3 separate regions of the Homo sapiens genome follow, and all the other regions are linked to region 1. The links come from fine-mapping of genetic effects on gene expression. A gene starts in region 1. Each other region holds a variant in brackets. All regions are shown on one strand. Distances are between the middles of the regions. Region 1 holds the start of C19orf18 (chromosome 19 open reading frame 18). Region 2 overlaps ZNF606 (zinc finger protein 606). Region 3 has its middle 5.5 kb from the start of ZNF814.

Region 1 (5,343 bases):
GCTAAAAGGCCATCAAAGGGGATCAAAAAGAAGAGACTTTAAGATGGTTTAAGATGAACTTGGGAAAACAAGGAAATAACTTAGCATTAGAGAAGGACGCCGAACACACAGCTTCCAAATATCTAAGATGGGATGTGTTAATACATTCCTCCCAATGCCTGGCAGCAATGTGTGGGTTAATTTGCAGAAGCCTGGTGAGCCTGCTGTTCTTTTTGCACCTGGTGCTTCCTGTCATGAAGAATGACCTTTAGGAACAGGATACTTTTGGTTTCTGGTCTCCTTTTGCAGTCATACAAGTTGGGAAATCTCTGCCCAAATTAAGGACCTGGAGAGACTTAGAGTTGAAGGGGCTACGACCTCATTAGAAGGTCAGCAAGGGTTGGGCACAGTGGCTCATGCCTGTAATCCCAGCGAGGAAGGCAGATCACGAGGTCAGGAGTTCGAGACCAGCCTGACCAACATGGTGAAACCCCGTCTCTACTGAAAATACAAAAATTAGCTGGGCATGGTGGCACGCGCCTGTAGTCCCAGCTACTCAGGAGGCTGAGGCAGGAGAATTGCTTGAACCCGGCGGTGGAGGTTGTGGTGAGCCGAGATTGCGCCACTGCACTCCAGCTGGGTGACAGAGTGAGACTCCGTCTCAAAAAAAAAAAAAAAAAAAAAAAAAAAAAAAAAAAAAAAAGGATCAGAGAGCCAGGCAGAGAGGCCAGGGAACCAACAATAGTGTCCTTTCCTCGGACACAAATTACATGCAAATGTATCACACAGACAGCATTTCCCTTGCATGGAATGGAGATTATTTACAAGCATCATATATCTCCACAAAGGGTTGCTGAGCTTCAAAGATTGTCGGGGTTGGTTTTGCTGTTATAAGATAAACAAACATCCTCTAGTACTCAAATTAGAAGGGAACCATAGAAAATGCTTATAAAGAATTCTCGGCTGGGCATGGTGGCTCATGCCTGTAATCCCAGCACTTTGAGAGGCCGAGGCGGGCGGATCATGAGGTCAGGAGATCAAGACCATCCTGGCTAACACAGTGAAACCCTGTCTCTACTAAAAATACAAAAAATTAGCTTGGCGTGGTGGCGGGTGCCTGTAGTCCCAGCTACTTGGGAGGCTGAGGCAGGAGAATGGTGTGAACCCAGGAGGTGGAGCTTGCAGTGAGCCGAGATCGCGCCACTGCACTCCAGCCTGGGCGACAGAGCAAGACTCTGTCTCAAAAAAAAAAAAAAGAAAAAAAAGAATTCTGTACACTCACAAACCTTCTGTGTCTAGACTTGCATGCTCTACTGCCAAATGTGCACCAAATTCAAGTCAGACAGGCATACCTGTGTAATCTGGATGGGATCAAGGTTTTTGTGTGCGCTTATTAAAGTGAAATGAAAAAGAGAAGAAAGTGGCAATCCCTAAAGAGAAAGCAGTTAACAGAGAGTGAAGAGCATAAGATCTAATTTCCAAGCAAATGTTTATCTAATTATACTCTATTTTATGGACCTTTCTACCAGCAAGCACACAGTACACATTCACATGGCAGATAAGAGGACTCCAGGCTACGATTCTCACTCCACTGAATGAGGAATTCAATGACTCACCCGTGGATCTCGAGGCAGCCCCTTGAATCCCAGGCAACTGGGTTTTATGAAAGAACACTTTGGGCTCTTTGGTGATGTTTCTGGGTGGTTGTGACCGTTTACTGCCTTGAAAAGAAAACTTTTTGCGGTGAAATGTAATTACCTTCTTTTTATCTCCCCTGAAACAGCTTTTCAATTCTCCCTGAGTCACATAAAACCAGTGGTTGAAGCTACCTGGTAAGCCTGTTATGTTTCCAGTGGGATGGAGTCCATCTGCATACGGCAAGCATAAATGAAGTTGGCATTCCATTAAAAACAAAAACAAAATGAGGAAACCACTCTGAACCTTGTCCATCACTCTCAAATTATCAGTATTTTATCCCGTAGATGAAAGGAAATACTTAGCTACAGTCCAGCATCTGTCCTCTATTTATCTGAGGAATCAAGAAGTTCTACTCCCTTCAGAATGTTTGGGCAGTGACTTGGAGCCACCAGTGTGAGGTCAGTCCTTGCTGTGATAATGGAGTTCCTTCATGGAACCATGCTGACCAATGGGGAGACTACAGTGTAAGAGGGCAGTGCTTGGAGGTGCAGGCATGATGAGACCAGGTCCCTGCCTGCAGTGTGCAGATTAGTGAGGAGGCAGAAAGAAATCAATTACAGTCAGCCCTCCGCATGCATAGTTCCCCATCCGTGATTTCCAACAACCTCACTTGGAAAATGTTCAGGAAAAAAGGAATGGGCACGGTGGCTCACGCCTATGATCCCAACACTTTAGGAGGTCAAGGTGGGCAGATCGCTTGAGGCCAGGAGTTCAAGACCAGCCTGGCCAACACAGTGAAAGCCCATCTCTACTAAAAATACAAAAATTTGCTGGGCGTGGTGGTGCACACCTGTAGTTCAAGCTACTTGGGAGGCTGAGGCATGAGAATCACTTGAACCCAGGAGGTGGAGGTTGCAGTGAGCTGAGATCATGCCACTGCACTCCAGCCTGGGCGACAGAGCAAGACTCTGTCTCAAAAAAATAAAACAACAAACACAAAAACAAAAACTAGCCAGGCATGGTGGCGTGTACCTGTAGTCCCAGATACTCGGGAGGCTGAGGCAGGAAGATCACTTGAGCCCAGAAGGCAGAGGTAGCAGTGAGCCAAAATCGTACCACTGCACAAAGAAAGAAAGAAAAGAAAGTGGAAGGAAAGCAGTCACCCTTAGAAGGGAGGCAATGTGCACAGGGGAGACCCACAGCAGGAAGGTAAAGGGGGACTCCTGATGACTGAAAGTGGGCCCTAGGCTTCAGAGATGGGAGGAATAGAAGACGGGCTCAAAAAAGGCAATGAACTATGTCATGTATGAGGGAGACAGAGGGGACCTGGGAGTGCTGGATGTTAGGGACCACTGAAATCAATACTGTCCAGGCTGTGCATGATAGGTGAGAGGAAGGGAATACTTCCAGGAAGAAGCAGAAGTCTGGGACTTTCTTTTGACTCGTGATGTGACCTGACCAACAGGAGGCCCTTTTTTTTTTTTTTTTTTTTTTTTGAGATGGAGTCTTGCCCTGTCACCCACACTGGAGTGCAGTGGCACAATCTTGGCTCACTGCAACCTCCACCTCCTGGGTTCAAACGATTCTCCTGCCTCAGCCTCTGGAACCGCTGGGATTACAGGCATCTGCCACCACACCCAGCTAATTTTTGTATTTTTAGTAGAGATGGGCTTTCACCATGTTGGCGGCCAGGCCAGTCTCGAACTCCTGATCTCATGATTCACCCACCTTGGCCTCCCAAAGTGCTGGGGTGACAGGAGTGAGCCACTGTGCCCTGCCAGGAGGCCCTTTAAGACATTAAAAAAACTCTTATCTGTTTAAACAGAGATGGGATCTTGCTACGTTGCAAGGCTGGCCTTGAACTCCTCAGCTCAAGCAATCCTCCTGTCCCTCCCAAAATGCTGGCATGAGCCTCGGTGCCCGGCCTAGAAATTTTTTCAAGATAATAATCTTAGTAATAAGGTTATAAGTTACCAGGATGCTTGTGGTATATTGCATATGACTTATGAAATCCTTTGGAATCTCTAAATCAGATAATTTGGATTCACTCTGGCTATTAGAATACAATATCCACATCCTACTGGTAGTATGATTCTGGATATATTATGCTGCTTTCTCCAAGATGAGATAATACTGCTAACTTCATTCTCTCCAAGGGCCTTTGCACAAATCATGTAAAAAAAAAATCCATCAATAACTAACTTGCCCCTGCCACATTTATCAGGTGACCACTAATGTGTCAGGCCTTGAAAGGACTACAATCAAATGTTACACACCTAAGTGAGCCCAAGCTAGAAGAGTCAGAAGGTGAAAATAACAGCCTCCCAATGACATCACTAGGCCATCATTTCTCAACCACTGGGAAGCCATGGGCCCTTTAAAAATTAGATGAGCTTTATGAGCCCAAGTTCCACTCAATACCCTTGAAGCCTATCCAGGAAGGATCCTTGGCCCCCAGTTTTAGAAATACTTATGAACTGGAGAGAAGCCACCCAAGTCTTCTGATCCATCTTTCCCCTTTTCCCCTGTGAACACTGAGACTTCATTACTCTAGGTGGACTGGCTAGCTCTCTTCCCTTCTGAATCCTGCTCCTTCAAGTAAGCCTTTCATCTGCAGAAGATTTCAAAAAAATAAAAGACCGAATTCAAGGTAAACCTTGGGTAATGGTGCTCTGAAGTGCAGTGGTGTCTAGTTATGGAAAGGAACAAACACCCCTGCCCTCTGCTCTGTAAGTGGCATTCTAAACCCACCAAGGGACTTGCCCAGTCCTCCAGCAAGTCCTCCAGGCCCTGCTGCCCTGTTATCCTTGGGGTTGCAGGCAGCAAAGTTCTAGGGAACTCAGGTCCCAGAAAATGCAGTGATTCTGAATGTCCAACACAGACTTCATATTCCAAAGGGATACTAGTTCTCATGTTACTATAAATCCTTCGAGACAGAGAAACCAGGTAACTTTATTTCTCATTGTTTAGGATTTTCTTTTTATTATCAAATCTCTGCTATAGAAACACTGAAGAAAATGGGAAAAAAAATCACTGGAGAGGCAGCATAAAATGGTGGCTGAAAACAAGAACTCTGGAGCCAATCTCAGCTCTACTCCCTTACTAGTTGTGCCCCTTAGGTAGGATCCTTCAACATCTCTGCTTCAGCTTAGCCATTTGTAAAACTGGGGTAACAGTACCTATCTCAGAGTAAAGGGGACTAAACAAGTTAACACTTGGAAAGCATTTAAAAGAAAGCCCAGCACATAAGTGTTATATGTATTTGTAAAACTTTTTAAAAATCTCAACTGGGTTAACTTTTCCATGGATCTTTCAGGTCCTTACCCATATACATTTTTTTAGATGTGTTACAGTAAGTATGTATATACAATTCTGTATCCTTTTTATTCCTTCATGTTATGTATACTGATGCAGTGTCCATAATTATAATTTATAGTGATTGCCTAAAACAAATTACAAACTAATTGCCCAACAATGCAGTGATGAGTAACAATGGACGCTGACACACTGGGCTAAGGATCACTTTCTGTCCAGCAACATCAGTCTCACACTCCTAGGCAATAACTTTTCTACCGTTAGTCATCTCATTCATTAATTTTCTCTAAGGAGGTTAATCAACAGTAAATACCCCATTCAATACTATTATTTTTCTTACATTCAGATTTAGCACTTCATATTCTACTCCTGGGCACCCAGACCCTCCCCTTATAACAACAAAATCTGTAT
Region 2 (5,343 bases), 21 kb after region 1:
CTATGCAGCTGAAGTAGAACAGGACTTCCAGCCTCACAGCCCTGCCCTGAGAAACACACACAGACCAGACGTCTCCTGGACATGAGAAACACCTGATGCACAGATAAAGCGACTGAACTAAGTAGCCACAAGGCCAGAGAATCCAGACAACAGCCACATTCAACTTTCAAAGACCTGTTAATTCCTATTCTCAGATTCTCAGACCAGAGTGATTTCAGTATAAAGTGGGACAGGATGCTACAAGAGAGGCTGAGAGAATAGGAAAGCCTTCACAGACTAAGAAAAGAACAGAAGACACAGCAACTAGTTCAGGAGGCCCTAGAGAGTTCTGCTGTGGTGAGAACATGATCATCAGGCCCCCAACCCCCACCAAGAAAAGGACATGGAATATAGAGAGATCAGAGACACGGCAATTTGTTCAGGAGGTCCAGCAGCTAACAGAAGAGCCCAGAAAGAGAACCTAAAGGAAAAGGACAAGAGGGAATTATTACTTTTTAAATAACACAAGACTTCTTAAAATAAGACACACAGAAACACTAGCCATAAACAAAGATAGACACATTTGACAAAAACATACCAACATTCAAATATCTGACTGATAAGACACCACCAGTTAAGACAAGCTACAGACTGGGAGGAGTTAGTTGATATGTGATAAAGAATTAGGATTCAGAATGCATGTGAAATACCTATATTAAAGTCAGTCCCTAGAAATCTAGGGATGGGGGAAGAGAAACAAAGAGAGAAGGAAATACAGATGGCCAATAAAGACATCAAAAGGTACTTAAGCTCACTAGCAATCAAGAAGATGCACATTAAAGGAATGCAATATACCTTTCTGGTCCTGAGGTAAGCAAACATTTAAAAGACCTGATAATGTCAAGTGTCGACAAACATGCAGGAAAAGGGGTATTTTCTCCCAGAGTGGGGAGACTGACAAGTAGCTTCGCCCCCTTGTAGAGACATGCGGCAGCACTAGTAACACTGAAAGTATATACCTAGCCGGGCATGGTGGCTCATGCCTGTAATCTCAGCACTTTGGGAGGCCGAGGCAGGTGAATCACGAGGTCAAGAGATGGAGACCATTGAGACCATCCTGGCCAACATGGTGAAACCCTGCCTCTACTAAAAATAAAAAAATTAGCTGGGCGTGGTGGCATGCACCTGTACTCCCAGCTACTTGGGAGGCTGAGGCAGGAGAATCACTTGAACCCGCGAGGCAAGGTTGCAGTGAGCTGAGATGGCACCACTGCACTGCAGCCTGGGCAACAGAATGAGACTCTGACTCAAAAAAAAAAAAAAAAAAAAAAGTACATACCTAAAACCAGGTACAATTCTGCTTCTAGGGGTATGCCTAGATAAAAACTACATAAACACGTGCACAAAGTGAAGTCACAGGAATGTTCACACAGCTTTCACTGGAGCAGCAAAAACAATGGGGGAAAGAGGAACTTATAAACCTGCCCATAAAAGAAACTATGAACACAGAGGTGCACTTCTCTAATGGATACACTCGGCAGCGCAAAAGGAACAAGCCTGACTTCTCTGTATCTATCAACATGGATGGACCTCAAAGTTGAAAAAAGAAAACTATAGGAAAACTACATATAGAAAAAAATCATTGGGAAAAAAAATAGATTGTTGGGCTGGGTGCAGTGGCTCACACCTATAATCCCAGCACTTTGAGGCAGGCAGATCACTGAGGACAGGAGTTTGAGACTAGCCTGCCCAATATGACAAAACCCCACCTCTACTAAAAATACAAAAATTAGCCAGATATGGTGGCACACGCCTGCAATCCTAGCTACTTGGGAGGCTGAAGCACAAGAATCCTTTGAACCCGGGAGGCGGAGACTGCAGTGAGCTGAGATCATGCCACTGCACTCCAGTATGGGCAATGCAGTGTGACTGTCTCAAAAAAAAGAAAAAGACTGTCTATGTCTATATAGTTTATCATCTATGTATGCATATGAAAATGAATTAGCTGTGTACAAACTGAATCCATGAGTGGTTGCCTGAGAAATGGTGGAAAGACAAAGAGTAAAAGAAGAAAAACAACAAATACGACAAAACAGTAATATTGTTCACTGATGGTGATGCCATTTGCTTCCTTTTTACACTTCTCTGTAATTATGAAATGTGCCAAAATTAAAACTAAAATAAATTTTTAAAAATTTAGAAATGAAAAAGGGGACATTTTCAAACTGTAAGCCCCATGGGCTAAAAAACAGGAAGAAAAAAAGAGCTGCCCCCAGCTGAATATGTAACCATGTCTGGGCCCACAAATCATGGAGGCCTCACCTCAAGGATGGTAAGGGGACTGGGCACAATGGCTCACGCCTGTAATCCCAGCATTTTGAGAGGGCAAGGCAGGCAAATCACCTGAGGTCAGAAGTTTGAGGCCAGTCTGACCAACATGGTGAAACCCTGTCTCGATTAAAAATACAAAAATTAGCCAGTGTGGTGGCACACACCTGTAATCTCAGCTACTCGGGAGGTTGAGGCATGAGAATCCCTTGAACCCGGGAGGGGAGGCTGCATCAAGCCAAGATCGTCCCACTGCACTCCAGTATGGACAACGCAATGAGACTCTGCCTCAAAAATAAAAATAAATAAATGGCTGGTAAGGGGACACAGTAAACACCTTCAGCCTAGAATTGCAAAGGAAAATGCAAAACCAAAAGGCCAGAAGGAAGAGATGGTGGAAGACAGGAACCTAGTCTCACAGGCTGTGGAGATGAGAGGGACCCTTCAAGGGTAGGAGAGGAAATGCAGGTTTCACTGTTGCCTGATGCTAAGGGGAAAGGGTGCTAAAGAGAGAAGAGTACTGCTACAGGGAGGAGCAAACCCTTCTGGTCCACAGGTCACCCTCATGAGCTGCATTTGTATTTTCCAATCACATCCTAGGATGACTTGCAAAAGTGTTTCACCCAAATTCTCATAAACATTCTTGCACACATCACTTTGTACACACATATAAGCATTTATCTAGGCATTCTAAGCACTTCATGG[A/G]ATCTGCTAACAAACCAGCCACACATTTAAACCCTTTGAGAGTCTGAAGGAGAGACCAAAGGTGCTGAGCTGGGTCTCAGATGTTTGCTGACAGATCTTGCCCAACTGCTCCCCCTTCAAGGAACCTGGGGCAATTCAGATGGCTTCTGTGGTAGATTTCATTGCAGAGAAGGAAAACATAAATAGATTGTGCACATCCTCAAGTCTGACCAAGCATGGGTGCAGACTATTATTGGTGTTTTATGTACATAATGTTTGTTATGCAGATATCCTAGGTGGACTGTTAACAGAGGGGTTTGAATGCTTCCGTATTTGGAAAGGCTGGTTGGGGTTTTTTAGATGAAATGAGATATTATCATTACAATTATTATTTTCCCCTATTCCTAGAAATAACGGGATCTGGGCTTCTGTAGTTAAAACCTCACTATTCAACATACTTCCATGAATGGACTATTCAGATAATGAGGGATGACAGCATTTGATGTTTTCACCAGATAAATGCTTTATTTCAATAAATACTTAACTTGGAGGGAACAATAAAGGGACACAGGGTTCTTTTGCATTCCTGAAGATCTCACTTAGTTAAAAACACACAGCAGTCAAATCCGAGTTTCCCACAGGAAAAAATCCAGAGTGTGGGGAGGGGGGCCAGCCAGGAGCATGTTATCAGAAATCACAACTCTTCAGACATTGGAGGGTGTTGTTATTTTTAATTCTGTTTTATTTTCTCAGCATTAACTTAGATAATTCTCAGAAAGCCTAGCATAAATTAACAGCAGAGTGTAGCATGGTGGTTAACAGGGCTTCTTCGCAGTGTTTTATTACAGCTAACTTCTACTCCTCAGAGTCTGATTCAGGGGCCATCTTTCAGGCTAGTCTAGCTTCACTACTGATTATTCTGTCTTAGGATTTAATAATGACTGTACATTGTAAGAGCAGCAAACCTCATAGTTGCCCAAGTTCTGATGCCAGGCAACAATCACCTTGCATCATATGGTTCAGGCCCTTCTGCTTCCCATCTCACCTGGACCAGGGATAGCAACACTGCCAAGTGGGAACAGCATACTTATGATGGACTTCACCCACCAGATTTGAAACTGTGGGCGGTTTCAATAATATTTTTTAATTTGAGGGGGAGGCACAAAGTAGAGACATCATTTTTAAATCTTGTTTTATATCCAAGTATCTCACATCTGCTTGATTCATTATCTTAACTTAAAAATAAAAGACCTAAAAATAAGTAATGAAACTCTTTTTCTTCATCTTTCATAGCAGGGAGTTAACAGAGTAAATATAACTTTAATGAATTAGGAAAAAACCAATTTAAAAAATCTCCCATTTAGAAATACAGAGACAACTCTAAAAAACTGAAAACAGGAAGTTAAAAATGGCTGCCTCAGTCATTTTTTACAATGTAATTACATTGTAATTACACTTATTACATTTACATTGTAATTACATTACATTAAAAGAAATATTGACACAATGCTACAATATGGGTAACTCTTGAGAAGGCAAACATTATGCTAAGTGAAAAAAGCCAGACAAAAAAGGCTGTGCCATATTATGATTCCATTTTTATGAAATGTCCAGACTAGGCAAATTCATAGAGACAGAAAGTACACTAGTGGTTGGGAGGGAGTAGGGGAAACAGGGAGTGACTACTAATGGGTACAGGATTTCTTTTTAGGGTGATGAAAATGTTCTAGAATTAGATACTGGTGATTGTTGCACAATTCTGTGACTATACGAGAAACCACTGAATTACACACTTTAAAAGGATAAACTTTATAATATGTCAGTACCATCTCAATAAAGCTATTATAAAAATTTTTTTAAGTGGCTGCATCTGGTGAGGAGGCTGGGCAGGAGGACGGCAGAGAGATGACACCTTTCCTAAGTAACTCCATTGTCCTATTTCTCTCAGGAGCCACCCTGTCCCCATAATCACAAAGGCCCCTGCTTTGATTTCCTTATACCTCTCCTCCATAGCTCCAAGGCCCTGGTCAGACTGAAGCCTGAAACACCAGCCTGCTTCCCACAGCCCTCTTCTTTCCACACCCATCACCACATTTTGGACCCTGGTGCCGCCTGATCCCAAGACTTCTGAGGTTCTGCAGCAAGCATTCAGGGCCTGGCCTCTCCAGCCTAAAATCTAACTGGAGTCAGTCTCACTCAAACACTGGTCACACAGTGTGCTGCCTGCCACCCCTGACCCCTGTGGTGCTGCAGGAGGCCAGACCCCCACTCACCAGGCTGTGCCCAACTGGCTGATGCATTCTTTTCACCTCTTGGCCCAGGTCTACGAAGCAGCCTTCCCCTCCACAGTAA
Region 3 (5,343 bases), 81 kb before region 1:
ACTGCAACCTCCACCTCCTGGGTTCGAGCAATTCTTCTGCCTCAGCATCCTGAGTACCTGGGACTACAGGTGCGCACCACTATGCCCGGCTAACTTTTGTATTTTTAGTATAAACACGGTTTCACTATGTTGGCCAGGCTGGTTTCAAGCTCCCAACCTTGTGATCTGCCCACCTCAGCCTCCCAAAGTGTTGGGATTACAGGCGTGAGCCACTGCACCCGGCCCAGACCAATGTATTTCTTTAATGTATTTGATTGATGTCTCTTGCCTCCTTAAAATGTATAAAACCAAGCTGCGCCCTGACCACCCTGGGCACATGTTCTCAGGACCTCTTGAGGGCTGTGTCACAGGCCATGGTCACTCATATTTGGCTCAGAATAAATCTCTTCACATAGTCTACAGAGTTTGACTCTTTTCATTGACACTGAAGAAACCCCCAACCCAGAGGAAAATCATCTGTGTGCACCACTTGGCTCACTTTGAGTGAGTGGGGTGCATATACCCAGATAAAGAATGAGATTGGTTTACAGGCCCAACTTGGTGGAGTTAGAGTCTCTCCTGGTTAAAGGCTCCTCTCAATAAAAGGCAAGGACACTTGACCAAACTTTGGTTCAATGCCCAAATTAGGAAGATTAGATTACTTCCTAAGAGTTAGGGGGTTAGAGGCCCCTCTCAGTAAAGTCCCTCTTGGCTAGGAATGGGTTTGGCACAATGGGCTGTTAACTGCTGTTCTCTTTGGAATAATCTGCCTTGCTGATGGCTATGGGTGACAGGACTAGGAATGTACAGGATCATGGGACATGGGGAGCTTTTTCCTCCCCAAAAGGGAAAACTTGCGAGCTGATGGGACTGCTGGAAAAGATCCCCTTGCTACTGACAAGCAGCCACCTGAACTTTTCAGTGTCACTGCAATGGGAGTGGGGGGGGCTTCTCTGGCCTCTCTAAGCTCCTGGCCTTCCCCACCCTGCCACAGGCAATGTTTTTCTCTGTCTCCTTTCCCTTTCTTATCTTTTCTGTTATTCAGGGTGACCATCTTGCCCAGAGACCAAGTTGAAACTCATGGTCGGAGGTTGGATTAAAGATGATGGGGCCCAACCAGGGCAAGTTTGAGCCTTGCCTGTTAGATATTCCAGGCGGAGCCGAGTGGCTAATGTGTATGTTTTGTCACACGTATTTTGCTCTGGCCAGAATGGAAAAAGATAATTTAGCTTTGTATTGCAGATTGGCCCCCAAGGGTGTGGTGCAGCCAGCTGGGTCACTAGAGGCTCTCAGGGAAAGGCAAACCAGAAGCCTGGAATGCTGGAATGCCAGCAAAAGGGTAAGAATTTCTTTTTTGTTATTGATTTTTTTTTTTTTTTTTTTTGGAGACGGAGTCTTGCACTGTCGCCCAGGCTGGAGTGCAGTGGTGTGATTTCGGCTCACTGCAACCTCCGCCTCCTGGGTTCAAACGATTCTCTTGCCTCAGCCTCCTGAGTAGGTGGGATTACAGGCACGCACCACCATGCCTAGTTAATTTTTGTATTTTTACTACAGACAAGGTTTCACCATGTTGGCCAGGCTGGTCTCCAACTCTTGACTTCAGGTGATCTGCCCGCCTGGGCCCCCCAAAGTGCTGGAATTACAGGCATGAGCCACTGCACCCAGCAAGAATTTCCTACCAGTCAGTTGGCTGGGTGTGGTGGCTCACACCTGTAATCCCAGCACTTTGGGAGGCAGAGGCAGGTGGATCACCTGAGGTCAGGAGTTCGACAACAGCCTGACCAACATGGTGAAACAACATCTCTACTAAAAATACAAAAAATTAGTCATGGCCGGGTGCGGGGGCTCATGCCTGTAATCCCAGCTCTTTGGGAGGCCGAGGTGGGCAGATCACTTGAGGCCAGGAGTTCGAGACCAACCTGGCCAACATGGTAAAACCCCGTCTCTACTAAAAATTGAAAAAATAAGCCGGGTGTGGTGGTGCATGCATGTAATCCCAGCTACTCGGGAGGCTGAGGCAGGAGAATCACTTAAACCTGGGAGGTGGAGATTGTAGTGAGCTGAGATTGCACCATTGCACTCCAGCGTGGGTGGCAGAGAGAGACCCCATCTCAAAAAAAAAAAAAAATTAGTCGTGCATGTTGGTGTGCACCTGTAATCCCAGCTTCTCGGGAGGCTGAGGCAGGAAATCACTTGAACCCAGGAGGTGGAGGTTACAGTGAGCTGAGATGGTGCCACTGCACTCCAGCCTGGGTGACAGAGCGAGACTCTGTCTCGAAAAAAAAAAAAGTCCAGGTGCAGTGGCTCATGCCTGTAACCCCAGCACTTTGGGCTGAAGTGAGGGGATCACGAGGTTAAGAGCTCAAGACTATCCTGGCCAGCATGGTGAAACCCCGTCTCTACTAAAAATACAAAAATTAGCTGGACATGGTGGCTGTAGTCCCAGCTGCTCAGGAGGCTGAGGCTGGAGAATTGCTTGAACCCAGGAGGTGGGGGTTGCAGGGAGCTGAGATCATGCCACTGCACTCCAGCCTGGCAACAGAGTGAGACTCCATCTCAAAAAAAAAAAAAAGAAGCCGATTTGCCCAAATCAAAGAAAGAAAAGAAGTGGGTTTTCTTATTTTGTTTCATTTTGTTTTTAGTCTGTAAATGAAACAAAACAGCAAGGAGAAAAGTCCCCTGATTTGTATCCTAGTGCTTCTTGATCACACCTAGTTGGCATAGCTGCAAAAAGCATAGCCGGCTGGGTGCAGTGGCTCACACCTGTAATCCCAGCACTTTGGGAGGCTGAGACGGGCAGATCACGAGGTCAGGAGATCCAGACCATCCTGGCTAACACGGTGAAACCCCGTCTCTACTAAAAATACAAAAAAAAAAATTAGCCGGGCGTGGTGG[C/T]GGGTGCCTGTAGTCCCAGCTACTTGGGAGGCTGAGGCAGGAGAATGGCATGAACCTGGGAGGTGGAGCTTGCAGTGAGCCGAGATTGCACCACTGCACTCTAGCCTGGGCAACAGAGCGAGACTCCGTCTCAGAAAAAAAAAAAAAAAATCATAGCCACATCTATCTAATCTTATTGCTCATAGCTGTTAAATACCAAACCTGAATACGCAATTTTAGAAACGGAGCCTTCAATGCTTTTTGTTCCCAATGTTTCACAAGCAAATGGATGGAAATCAGAAGGCACACAGGGGAAGAGTATAATAAAAGCCCTAAGACAAGTTAAATGAAGTCCCCTGAAAATGACAGTGAAGCAGAGCAACCAAGAGATTGATTCATACAGCAAAGAGGACAAGACAGATTAATGCAAAGTTGACATCCTGTGGTGCCAAACCAGTTCTTAGCCAAGAGGGACTTTACTGAGAGGGGCCTCTAACTCTTAGGAAGGACTAAATCTTAGGAAGGACTCTAACCTTCCTAAATTGGGCCTCAAACCCAGGGTCAGTCAAGCCTCCTTGCCTTTTCTTTTCTTTTCTTTCTTTTTTTTTTTTTTGAGATGAAGTCTCACTCTGTTGCCCAGGCTGGAGTGCAGTGGTGCGATCTCGGCTCACTGCAACCTCTGCCTCCTGGGTTGAAGCAATTCTCTTGCCTCAGCCTCCCTAGTAGCTGGGATTACAGGTGTGTGCCACCACACCTGGCTGATTTGTGTATTTTTAGTAGAGATGGGTTTTCACCATGTTGGCCAGGCTGGTCTCGAACTCCTGGTCTCAGGCAATCCGCCCGCCTCGGCCTCCCAAAGTGCTGAAATTACAGGTGTGAGTCACCGCACCTGGCCACGTCCTTGCCTTTTATTGAGAGGAAACTTTAACCCTCTCTGTCTTAGGAGAGACTCTAACTCCCTAAGCTGGGCCTCTAACCCAATCTCATCCTTTACCCAGGTGCCCCACCACTTACCCAAAGTCGGCCAATTAGTGCTGCAGCCTATTTCCTTTGGGCCGGTGGGTTTCTTCAGTATCATCCCTTCAAGGTTCACCAGAAAGATGTTACCAGAAAGGGCGTCCCAATTCAGACCCCAAGAGAGGGTTCTTTGGATCTCACACAAGAAAGAATTCAGGGTGAGTCCACAGTGCAAAGAAAAGTAAATTTGTTAAGAGAGTAAAGTGATGACAGAATAGCCACTCCATAGACAGAGCAGGCTCTTCCCGAAAGTCAGAGGAGGAATGCGTCCACCCTAGGTACTTGTTTATACATAGTGTCAGGAATAACGCTCAAAATTTTAAGGAAATTGAACACTCGAACAAACGATTTTTAGCAAAGAAATTTTACGTTTGCACAGAGGGGTGCCTCTTTGGCCAGTCGCCATGAGAGCGCACCTGAAAAAAGGGGCACGAGAGCCTTTGAGCGAGCCACTTTTGTGAGCGAGACTCCATCTCAAAAAAAAAAAAAAAAAAAGAATTGGCAGAGATTTTAAAAAGGCTTATAAAGAAGGAGCCAAAATTCCAGTTTCTGATTGGTTGGTGTGGGCATTGATAAAGGCTGCTCTTGAGCCATTTCAAACAGATCACGAGACAGATTCAGATGAGGAAGACAAGTGTGTAAAAAACTAACTTCAGATTCTGAATGCGAGGAGCAAAAACCAGAGGAAATTAAGAAAGGGAAACTGAAAAGGGTATGTTTTACTAACCCATCAGCTCCACCTGCTGAATTAAGTGAATGGCCACCTCCTTTCCCTCCCCATAATGGGCGAGAAAATGAATTAGCTGTAAAATTTACTGCTCCTGTAGTTGCAACATTAAAATCTGGAGCAATTGGTGGTGCTATACAAAATTCTATTCAAAAGGCTAGAGCTGAGGGAGACCTTGAAGCATGGCAATTTCCTGTTACTATCACCCAGCAAGGAGGGAAAAATATAGCTAGTTGGGCCACATTTTCTTTTAAGCTATTAATGGAATTTAAGCAAGCCATTAGTCAATATGGGCCAAATTCTCCTTTTGTACAAACTTTACTAAAAAATGTGGCTCTGAATAATAGATTGATAAAATATGACTGGGATACTTTAACAAAATCTGTTCTCACTCTATCTCAGTACTTACAGTTTAAAACCCGGTGGGCTGATGAAGCTCAAACTCAGGCAAGGGAAAAAACACAAGCACAGCCATCTGTGCCTGTTTCCTTTCAACAGTTAAAGGGAGTCAGTCCTAATTGGGGTCAATTAGAAAATCAAGCAGTAATGGAGAATGTTGCCATTGTTCAGTTATGCACTGTGTGCTTACGGGCATGTGACAGAATAAATGTTACAGGAGAAAAATATCCTTTTTTCAGTTCTGTCTGACAAGGACCTAAAGAACCATATACTGATTTTATTGCTCAGCTCCAGGAGGCTGTGAATAAGGCCATAACTGACAAAACAGCTCAAGATGTTGTAATACA

Evidence for each region. PIP is the estimated chance that this variant, and not a neighbour inherited with it, causes the effect.
Region 2: its variant is the best candidate, but not a certain one, in a credible set for the expression of C19orf18 in sun-exposed skin (GTEx, PIP 0.88).
Region 3: its variant is the best candidate, but not a certain one, in a credible set for the expression of C19orf18 in substantia nigra (GTEx, PIP 0.65).

The regions. Positions count from the first base shown.
Region 1 is chr19:57,972,504-57,977,846 of GRCh38, forward strand. It overlaps C19orf18 (chromosome 19 open reading frame 18), which reads right to left and starts at 2,031. Exons shown (of 6, transcript NM_152474.5): 1 at 1,809-2,031; 2 at 1,596-1,700; 3 at 1. The coding sequence starts at 1,929. ZNF606 (zinc finger protein 606) reads right to left here. Exons shown (of 7, transcript NM_001348022.3): 7 at 4,573-5,343.
Region 2 is chr19:57,993,902-57,999,244 of GRCh38, forward strand. All of the region lies in intron 4 of ZNF606 (zinc finger protein 606), which reads right to left. Among named protein-coding and RNA genes, the nearest start is that of ZNF606, 6.2 kb to the right of the region's middle. The variant A/G (reference allele first, on the strand shown) is at 3,013.
Region 3 is chr19:57,891,828-57,897,170 of GRCh38, forward strand. It overlaps a transcript of ZNF814 not described here. Among named protein-coding and RNA genes, the nearest start is that of ZNF814, 5.5 kb to the left of the region's middle. The variant C/T (reference allele first, on the strand shown) is at 2,875.